2 separate regions of the Homo sapiens genome follow, and region 1 is linked to region 2. The links come from fine-mapping of genetic effects on gene expression. Tissue or cell type: whole blood. Region 2 holds a variant in brackets; the other region holds the start of a gene. All regions are shown on one strand. Distances are from middle to middle. Region 1 holds the start of C17orf67 (chromosome 17 open reading frame 67). Region 2 overlaps DGKE (diacylglycerol kinase epsilon).

Evidence for each region. PIP is the estimated chance that this variant, and not a neighbour inherited with it, causes the effect.
Region 1: C17orf67 starts here. The variant in region 2 is fine-mapped to the expression of C17orf67 in whole blood (TOPMed, PIP above 0.99).

Annotation. Positions count from the first base shown.
Region 1 is chr17:56,830,564-56,835,943 of GRCh38, reverse strand. It overlaps C17orf67 (chromosome 17 open reading frame 67), which reads left to right and starts at 2,024. Exons shown (of 8, transcript NM_001085430.4): 1 at 2,024-2,326; 2 at 2,602-3,046. DGKE (diacylglycerol kinase epsilon) reads right to left here and starts at 1,793. Exons shown (of 12, transcript NM_003647.3): 1 at 1,684-1,793; 2 at 685-1,166. The coding sequence starts at 1,148. RefSeq lists enhancers at 340-937, 669-1,068, 1,537-2,134 and silencers at 1,459-2,528, 2,502-2,796.
Region 2 is chr17:56,859,945-56,865,324 of GRCh38, reverse strand. DGKE (diacylglycerol kinase epsilon) reads right to left here. Exons shown (of 12, transcript NM_003647.3): 10 at 3,407-3,534; 11 at 3,074-3,185; 12 at 1-2,713. The coding sequence ends at 2,534. All of the region lies in intron 1 of LOC124904037 (a long non-coding RNA gene), which reads left to right. Among named protein-coding and RNA genes, the nearest start is that of DGKE, 28 kb to the right of the region's middle. The variant T/C (reference allele first, on the strand shown) is at 2,305.

The DNA.
Region 1 (5,380 bases), 29 kb after region 2:
AACATCAGCAAAGGACATCTTCACCTATTTTCAAACAATATTTAAGGACAAAAATGTGTTGTCCAGTGTGTATATAAAAGACATTAAAATATTCTTGGCTTAATCAAGGTCACTTATCTAAGATTCTACATGTCCTGAAAGACCAAGCGTCAAAAGGAATATTCCTTTCAGTGTTCTTTTTGAGTATATTTCGCTATGGTACCAACAGCTATATTAGCAAAAGACATAAAAGTGCTGCCTTGGAATGACACTTGTTTTCACTGCACATTCATAGTACAAAACCTGTGACCCATCAGTTTTGCGGCTGAAGGGAAAAGTTAATTTGTCCATATTTCATTTTTCCTTATTTAAAATAAGGAGATAATCGATAGGAACAAAAGCTAAAATATACAGTGGCCATGAAGCAGGCACCACTTAGAAACCTCTGTATTAACGTTAGGAGCCAAGTTTTATTACCCAAAAGGGCAGGCTGGCTGAGGAGTGGAGGCTGGATGCATCGTCTCAGCAAATGACTACTGCAAAGCTGCCACGCTTGCACAAACTCAGGGATGTTTATTTATTAGCTTGTTTCCTCAAAATGAGTTTAGGTCATCAGCAGAGATTAAAGCAGGCCTCTACACCACTCTATGAAATCCTGATTCCCACGGCGCATTCTGGGACAGTGAGTGTCCACGAAGACCATACCTGTAATCGCAAAGCTTGGGTTGACAGCCACACTGCTGCTTGCAAACCATACAGTAACTGCACAGGGGCACGTTGCCCCGGATCCAGTGGTGGGGCATGGCGTCCAGGACCTTGGTGTCATTCTTGAGCATAATCTCCTTGCACTGGAAGCGCTTGTCGGCCTTCCTGAGGCAGCCCTCGTCCACGCGGAGCCCGCAGCAGTCGCAGAAGGCGCCCTGCAGAATGTGCTGCGCGCACACGCAGCAGTAGGTGGGCTGGCTGAACAGGTCCGTGTCGCGCCACCCGTGCTTGCTCTTGCGGAAGATGTCCCTGCGGTGCAGCTGCCGGCGCGACCGCTGGAGGCTACACCAGAAGGTGATGAACACCGGCAGCAGGACCGAGCACAGCGTCCACAAGATCAGGTGCCCGTCCGCAAACAGGCCCTCGGAGGGCGAGCCCGGCGCCGGCCGCCTCTCCGCTTCCATCTTCTCCAAGGACGATACCTAACCAGAAAAGAAACAGGCGGTGCACCCCGAGCTCGCCATCCCTTCCCCGCCCCCTTCCTGCCTTTCCGGGGCCAAACCGGGCGCCCTCAGTGAAGGTGGCTCCGCTCTCCCGAGGGCGGGACTGCGCCTCGTCCCCCCGTCTCCCGGGACCTGCCGCGCCGAGAAGGCGACGTCCAGCCATCACGCTCCAATCCCCACTCCCCAACCCGCCCCACCTCGGGAGCGCGTCCAGGAGCCCAAGGCGGCTGCTGCTGCCGCCGCCGCCTCACCTTGCCGCCGGTCTGACCCACGGAAGGGCGCAACATACAGGGGCAAGCTGCCCTCCACCGAAAGGCCGGGCGTTCAGGCCAGGCAACGCCGGTCGGCGCCCGTAACCGTCGGCCCAGGCCTCGCACTCCCCTCCGGGGCGCCGTCTCCTCCCGGGCCCCACCCGCTCCCACGCGCGGCCCGGCGACCCTAGCCCCTCTCGGGAGGCCTCCGGAGACCTGCGCCGCGCCGGTCCTCGAAGCCCTACCTCGCGCGGGTGGAGGCGCGGCTCCGGGCCAGCAGGCCTTGGCCGCCTCGCGCAGGAGGAGAACGACGCTGGGCCGCCAGCAGGGATGAAGCCGGGCGGGGGAAACGCTTAAGGCTCCAGCCGCACGCACGCCGATCCGGCGCGCGGGGCCGCGAGCTGGAGGCGGGGCCTGTGGCGGCGAGCCCCGTGGCTGGGCGGAGCCAGGGCTGACGGGCGGGGCGGAGGTGTGAGGTGGGAGGGGAGACGGACCGGCCTGAGGGGGCGGGGCCGTGGAGGAGGCTGGAGACGGATGGAAGAGGCAGGGCACTGCGGCTGGGGGCGGGGCCTAGGGGAAGGGGGCGGAGTAACAGTGGGGCGTTTGAGAGGATGGAGGGTTGAATGCCAAAACTTCGTAATCGTAGAAAATTCTGGAAAGCCGCCGGCGGGGCAAGGCCACGAGGATCCTCCTCGCAGCACCGCGCCGCGCGGGGCCCAGGGGCCGCGCTCACGCCCGCCGCTCGGCGCAGACACGAGTGCCCCCGACTTGAGCCGAACCTCTAGCCGATGCCGGCGCCGCCGCCGCCGGGGATGCGTAAGCCGACTGGGAAGCGAGGGGGGGAGGCGGCCTGCGCGGCACCGCCCGACCTGGCCGCGGCGGGCTGAGGTAGGTGTGGCGGCCGCAGTAACGCAAACCTGAGGGCTCCTCCGCTGCGGAGCGGCGGGCGGGCGCGGAGGCCGAGGGCGAGCGGGGCAGCCGCCCGCTCGTCGCCGCTGACCCCGAGCCCGGCCGCGGTTTCCGCCCCCTGCCGTGGCGGGCGGGCCTCCCCTGCGCTACCCCCTCGCCCGCGCCCGCCAGCGCCCGAGGCCGGGGAGAAAGGGGAGCAGCGGGAGCCGGGGACTACCGGAGATGGGAGCACGCCTCCTGCTGCTGTCGTCCAGCCCCAGGTTCCGGAGGAATGCTCGCTCCCCGCTGGAGTCCTACCAGCCCAACACGGACCTGAGCCGCGACCACGCGGGCTGCAGCCTGCAGCACATCAGCTACCCGGAGAACGCGGACGCGGAAGCACCGCTGCTCAGCACCCCCGAAGAAACACGGAATCCAGAGAGGCACAGGCACCGCCCCGGCGCGCACAGCTGCACTCAGCGGCTTCCTTCCTACTACATACATACATAGGAGTGGGAGCCGAGGACCACTTGTTGCTTGCGGACTTCCTCTAGCATAAAAGATGGAAAGAAAACACACACCGAAGCAAGGGACCAAAGGAACAGAAAAGAAACGCAGAGATCATAGGAAAACTGCAAAGAAATACTTGATAATATCTTCCAAACGATTAGAGAAGACATAACATTCATTAAGAATACACATATAGATGTATATATACGTGTATGTGTGTATGTATATATTATTATGTGTGCATATATATGCATGTGTATGTGCGTATATTTGTATTAACTGTAGAAGATAAAGCTAGACACTAGTAAAAGTGGTAAAGCAGATTTTAATAATATACTATTGTAATAGGGAAGAAGGTACCTCGTGAACGGAACTGAACTTTGTGCAGAAGTGACTAGGTGTTTAAGAGGGAGGAGGAGGGAATGTGAAGGGGATGAGCAGGAACTCAGTAGTCAGGAAAGTGAAACTTGTGAAGGGTGGGTCAGTGTAAGTAAGGTTAGGCGACAGTGCCTGTTAGATGGCTGTTATGGGAGTCAGGGTCCTATCCTCCCACAGTAACTGGGAGATAGGCCCTTTGCTTCCTGGTGATTGCATGTTGGAGGAATGGCTTTCAGGTTCTTGAGAAGGATACTCCTGATGTGTAGGAGACATTACATCCCAGAGAGACAGAGGAAGGATTCACAATTGTTTAGTTTTTTGTTGTTGTTGTTAACTCTTTAAGAAAGGGACATCAGGGGCTGCTTGTAAGGTGTTGGCAATAGCCAACAGTGAGTTCTTTTGGCAGCTTTCCCAGGAAGATACTTTAGGGGGTCTGGGGTCATCCTATGGATGCAGCTTTGAGCAGTTAAAAACTATGTGTTTAGGCCGGGCGCTGTGGCTCACGCCTGTAACCCCAACACTTTGGGAGGCCGAGGCAGGTGCATCACGGGGTCAGGAATTCAAGATCAGCCTGGTCAAGATGGTGAAACCCCGTCTCTACTAAAAATACAAAAAATTAGCTGGGCATCGTGGTGAGTGCCTGTAGTCCCAGCTACTTGGGAGGCTTGAGGCAGAGAATTGCTTAACCCAGGAGGCGGAGGTTGCAGTGAGCTGAGATCGCACCAATGTATTCCAGCCGGGGCGACAGAGCGAAACTCCGTCTCAAAAAAAAAGAAAGAAAAAGAAACTGTGTGTTTAAGCGTTTTGATATAGGGGGAAGGATGGACCCGATCCTTTTTGCTGAAGTCTGCAGATTTCATAGGCCAAGGTGGAGGCCTAGTTGAAAAGGGGGCTCAGGGAAGCCTGGCTAGAGCTTGGTCAAGGAGGGGATCTTCATCAGTCGTACGTATGTACATGGCACGTGGACCTGCATAGACACGTGTTTGGTGGAGGCTGTCTTATACGGATTCTGCACAACTCAAGTCCCCTAATGGGAACAGACTTGGGGAGGTCACTCTTGAGGCTTTTTGTGGTATTGTGGCTACTGGGAGACCTGAGGAGGGTTCTGGTCACTAGCAGACTCATTTCATTCACCCCTTGGAATCTGCCCAGGACTTGGACTTCTGTGTAATAGTAACTTCACGCCCCAATGATCCTCCACGTTCCTTGCTGATGCTGTGATTGCTCCTCCAAGTTCTCCACCTATGTCCATCTGAGCACTTGGTATTTCTACTCTAGTGTCAAAAGGTCCTGTTCCCAAGTCTCCTCCCAAACATTTATTCCAATTTATCATCCAGATGCCCGTCCTTTGCCATCCCTCTCTGTTCCAGCAAAGGACACCACCCCTCAGGGAGATGCTCACAGTGGACTCCTTGTCCTCATCCTGACTCCCCTTTTCTCTGGCACCCGCAGGCCTCAGTGAGTCTCTCGGTCTCTGGCAGCAGCACAGGTCCTGGACTCGAGCCCATCTCTCCATCCCCCCCTCCACTACTCCCCTGGTCCAGCTGTCACCATTCTCACCCTTGAATGACTGTCACAGCCTCCCACCTGGTCTTCCTGCTTTACTATGTTCCCTGCAGGCTGCCTCTGAACTTTTATATTGAAATGAAACTCTTACTGTGGGGAAAACCCCTCCATTCTCAGACCCCTGGTACCCTTCACTCATTTACCACTCTGGCCATCGTTCACTGAGTTCAGGCCACTCTGGCCTCTGCATGGTCCTCACGCCCACCAGACTCATGCCCCCTTCAGGGCTATTGTCAGTTCTACCCCCTTTTCCTACAAAGTTCTTCCCTATGTCTTCGTTGCCCAGGTGCTCCCTCCCGACAGAGGCCTTGCTGACCACCCCTACCAAGATTGCCCCACATTTATGTAAATCCAGTCTGTTTAACTATTAGGGTGAGTGACCTCCATTCATACTTGATAAATAATTTACAGTTATCTAAATACAGTGCCTGACTCAACATAAAGACACAGAGGAAGTTTAAATGGAAAGTTTAATTCAGGTTACTTTTGTCAGGTATCTCTCTTACATACCAAAATAAAAATGTATAAATACAAAAAAAAAATTAGCCAGGCGTGGTGGCTAATTGAGAGGAGATGGGGAAAAGTGATGTGGGGTTCCCC
Region 2 (5,380 bases):
TTCATGTATTTCTTCCTGAGAATGTAGAAGTTATTTTTTTAAATATCAAGACAATTTAAAATGGAACAGGAAAATCTTATGGCAATTTTTTTTGGTAAAGTGTAGAATCCCTGGTAATATAAACAATCACTACCCTAATATGTAACTTGCAAACATGAAGTCTTATAAATTGTACTTAAACAAGGCACATGCCTATACACTTATTTGAAATGCTGGGTAAATGTGCCCAAAAAGTAAGTGAATTTTGCAAAAACAAGATAATGATACATTTTATGAGATGGTATTCTGAAATAGCTTCCCTAAATGAAGTCTAAATAAGTGAATAAGCCAGCAGAAAAACTTCATGACAGACCAGTAGTGATGCAAAAACCTTACTAGATTACAATAACCAAAAAATCAACTTATTTAGATAAATGAGGGCATTTTACATAAGCCTGTTCTAAATACAGTGTAATATTATGGTTGGTATTAAAATTATAATTTTTAATTGTAGTTTTCACAATTAAAAAGCTGTATTAGTTATTGTGATTATTTTCGTTCCAACATCCTAAATTGATTTGCTTCTACTACAATTAGCACTACGAATTATATAACAGGTAAACTATAACCTACAGCAAAGTGGATTTAACAGTGTATTTATAAAATGTGATGTCTTTAACAATTTTGATCATGAATGAAAGGATAAACTTCATAATACTCAGAACATGATTGGCCCATTAAAAAAAAAAAAAACAAAACTCTGCCATCCTCACTGCCATGGTTACTTACCATGAAAGGTATATAAAGAAGCTGAAAACAGATCTGCTCACAAAGTTTCTCAAGACTAGAATTTAAGATCACCTGAGGAGATCTGCAAGAGGTTAATTTAGCAAAATAGAGTATTTCATAAAATGTACTGACTACTGTATACATTACTAAGTTGCTCTTTGAAAACATGGTCTGGGCCTGAGGTGAGGCAAACTTAGGTTTATGGCAATTCATGGATGACAGATTCATAATAGACCCTCAAAGATAGCTAATGGTATTTTGGGGGATACATTCTGATCTTTCAGAGATTAATGTCATGAAAGACCACAAAGCCTGGGCCATGTGTCAGAAAAACACCAGGCTGGATGCCCTCTGGGTCAGCCGACCTGTGGGTCACGACCCTTGGGCTGGTCAACAGCAGCGAACAAGCACCCTCTAATGGGAACCATGAAACTAGCCCTTCAGTAAGTTTGTGGCAATTGAGGGGCAAATAAAACAATGAAACAAAGCTTTCAGTTATCCAAAAGTAGTTCCCTAGTGCTTTTCATGCCCTCCTTCATTTTTCAATACAATGAGGAATATTTGTGAAGAATAAGAATATCTAGATTTCTGTCAGGAGAATTAAATTAGAATTTTAATTAATAGACTAAATTTCTATCTGATTGTGACTAGCAGAATTTATGTGATCAATTTAACTTATTAAATAAAGCTACAGAACGTAAACACTAAACACAGGTACCATACCACAAGGTAAATAATAAATAATTTAAAAATATATCTCTCTCATTTTAAAATAAATATGATATAAACATTTTAGCAAAGATTTCTGTCCACTTACCTCCCTAAGGGGAAATTCTGTTAAAAGACTACTGTATTTCAAAATACTACAAGACCACCAAATTTTTAAAACTTATCAGTCAGCCTTGAGCTTTTTCTAAGCAATTAATCTCACCGTTGTCTCCTTTAAGCACGTTTTTTGAAGTGTTGACACTGTCTTTTAATAAAAAGAGCGGCTGATAAACAGTTCAGCTCAGAACCTATAACTTACAATCCCAAGTGCTCTGAATCTTATTTCTTACCAATTCACTTATCTGTTTCTCTTTTGGCTACACTGGTGTTATAAAAAAGATCCTGAATTGCAGCTCAAATGGTTACCTACAGAATTAAACAACATTTACGTGTCTGAATAAGTTCCTAAAATAAAAATTGTAATACAAATTTTAAGTATGATCTTTTTTTACTATTCTCCTTTTGGGGGTTCCTAGAAATCAATACATACACTTGGTTTGGGTTGTAGAAAATCTTAAGGGGCATGCTGCAGGAGGATGCTCACAATTAACCATGCTGGTTTGACAGTAATCATTTCCTTTCAAAAAAGCAGGTTAATTTGATCTTTCCACCCACACCTTGTTGGAGATATAATGTGTCCATCCATTGTGTGTCCATCATATGCATGGTTCAAAAATAAGACATGAGACAGCACATACTTCAGAGTGAGTCCCACTCTCAAAACAGTCATAACAAATTTTCACTCTCATGTAAGTTTTTGTGACTTTT[T/C]GTAAGTTAATACTATTCATTTGAAGTATTTTGCTGAAAAAAGAACAAACATTTGTAAATAACTGAAGGCTGGCTGGTTTGGGGATGCTATTTACAAAAATGTATACCCATTATACTACTAGTGAAATTAAGACTGAATAGCTGATAGAGAATTTCTATTAATACTTTTGGATGAACATGTATCTACTTGCGTGAGGATTCTATGCAAAGTTTTCACTCCCTCATCCATCTATTCAGTCGCCTTTATATCTTCTTGATCCGAAGTACTAGAGATGTCATCATCTGTTTGTTCTCCAGAGAAATATAACATCATTGCATGTGTCTTGTGAGTTATGGTGACAGTGCAGGGCCCTTGGGCCCAAGGCTCCCCATCCACCTGCATTGGCATCATGGAGCACTTCAAAATCAGCTGATATTAGGGAACAAATAATGTTTAAAAGTCAGTCCCCCCAAATTTAGAAAGGTCTTCCTTAATAATACCATCCACAATCCCTTAACCCTTATGCATTTCATTTTTAGAAAATATTAATCTGAATATGTTTTTATTCATTGATTAAGGAATTCTTTTTTCAAGTGAACGTTTTATCTCATGGATCTTGAGCCATGTTTCTGTTTCTTCCTCATCCCACTCTAGCCGCTAGTGTACAGTGACCAGCTGCATGAGCCATAAACCACTGTTTAAAGAAAAGTATAGCATGTATATTTTACATATCAACAGCTTAGAATTGGATTGGGACAAATTAGCCTGTTACAGCTATATTTCACCTACCCTCACTGTATGTGCCTGTCCTATTCGAAAAGGATTAGCCAGTTTTACTTGAATCTGAGCACAGTGGAAAGACCCATATACTCCAACGACTTCCAGCAGACCATCGTCATGCCTAAAATTGGAAAAAGAAAATATGGATTATATGATGCAATAAAAAATCAGTTATGCTAGAGCAATTACTTTTTAACACAGTTGGACCATCAACTTAAAAAATATTTATAACTAATGAGATACACAAAAAAGAAAATTTGAGGAAAAATGTTAAAGTCTATAAACAAGAGATTGCTTTAAATAAAATAGTGACATAAAAAAACAGACCACAAATGTACATACCTGGCTAGAGGGTAAGTCTCGTCCCCCATCCCTTCCCATAGTCTGCAGCCACCGCCCCAGTATCCGATGTTCAGAACTATAATACCTTCCAAGCTGGGCAGTGCTACTCGCTCACCATCCAGTTCTAGCTTTAAAGAAATACAAATAGATAGTGACTACAGGATACACAATTTCCACACACATCCATTTAGAATTCACATCTATTTTCATAAATGTGCTTATATATGAGAGATGCACATGTAGAAGATGCTCCCTACCTCTCACTCAGGGCCTCTCATCTGCCCTTTTCTATCTCTTCAGTAGAACTGCTTCTATCAACATCAACAATAATGTTCTTTTTGTTGAGCCTCGTGATTTTTTCAGGACTTACCTAACTTGCTGTTTCAGTAGCACCTGACACTTGCTGACCCCCTTCCTCTTTTCCTAAAATCTTCTTTCCCTTTGCTTCCTGGGAACCACAGACTCTACTTCCCTGGATGTTCCTTCTCAGGAAAGTAAACTGGGCCAGATCCATCTATCCACTGCCCATAAAACATGTCCATGGACTGGCACCAAAAACTCTTATGTAAAAAATTGATCAAGCAACTTTTCTGCAATTTGCTCCCTGTTCCCCAATGTACTTACCAGGAAAGAGTAACATCTTCCCCTCCTCCTTCTCTTAGCTAACTCTTACTTACTCTTTCCTGGTTAAGTAGGTTAACTCACCCCCAACCCAGGTGTTTAAGCCAGAAACCTGGCAGTTATCTTTGATTTCTTTGACTTTTTACCCTCCACATCCCCTTAATCACTAAAAACTGTTGATGCTATTTCTATGTCTTTCTCTCTCTTCACCATTTCTTCCCTAAAATGTTTCTATCTGGCCTATCTGCCTCTAGCTTTACTTTCTTATGCATCCCTCACAGAGCGGTTGGATCGACACTTAAAAAATGCAAATATGTCATCCTCTAATTACCACCCTTCAGTGGCTTCACTTTAACCCTTCAATGCCCATGATGAAATACAAGATCCAATACCAGGCAAATATGACACTCTGTGATTTGACTTCTGTCCATCTCTCTAGCCTCAGCGCTTGTCTTTCCTTCCTGAAAGCTATGCTCCAGCCTGAACTCACTCAAATATGCCATGTATGCCTCTGGGTCTTTTGCAGATGCTGTTTTTAGCCTACAGCAATCTTCCCCTCCTCCTTCTCTTAGCTAACTCTTACTTATTTTCAGATTCCAGCTTGTCACTTCTTCCAGAAAGACTTGCTTATACTGCCACTTTCCCTAGTCTCTGTAGCTCCTAGGTTACGTATTGCAGTTATTTATTCCTGTAAGACCACATGCTTTTCTTATATAACTTCTCATACTGCATTGCAATGTGATTTAAATATCTTTTTGGTTTCTTCTTGGAGACAGGGTCTCAATCTGTCACCCAGACTGGTGTGCAGTGGTACAATCATGGCTTACTGTAGCCTCTGCCTGCTGGGTTCAAGTGATCTGCCTCCCTCAGCCTCCTGAGCAGCTAGGACCACAGGTACATGCCACTATGCTCAGCTATTTTTATTTTTTATAAAAGTGGAGTCTCACTATGTTGCCCAGGCTAGTCTCCTTGCCTCAAGCAATCCTCCCACCTTGGCCTCCCAAAGTGCTGGGATTACAGGCATGAGCCACTGTGCCCAGACTGGCTTAAATATCTTTCTTCACCCTAGACTGTAAATGTAGAGCAAGGGATTTATCACTGTCTACCTCCAGTATCGAGGACAATGACTATTTTGTAGGTATATAAATAAAATTTATTTTATTTCTGTATAATTAAAAATAATTTGTATTTTTATATAAATAAAATGTCAGACAATAAAATAAAAGTCTTTATTTTATATGCTTGTATGCTTTACTCTACCATCAAAGCCTAGGAAAAATAAAATATGATAAAGTAACATAACACTCTTTTTAACAGAAAATCTTGCTTACTTCTACGCCATGGCAGCCCAGA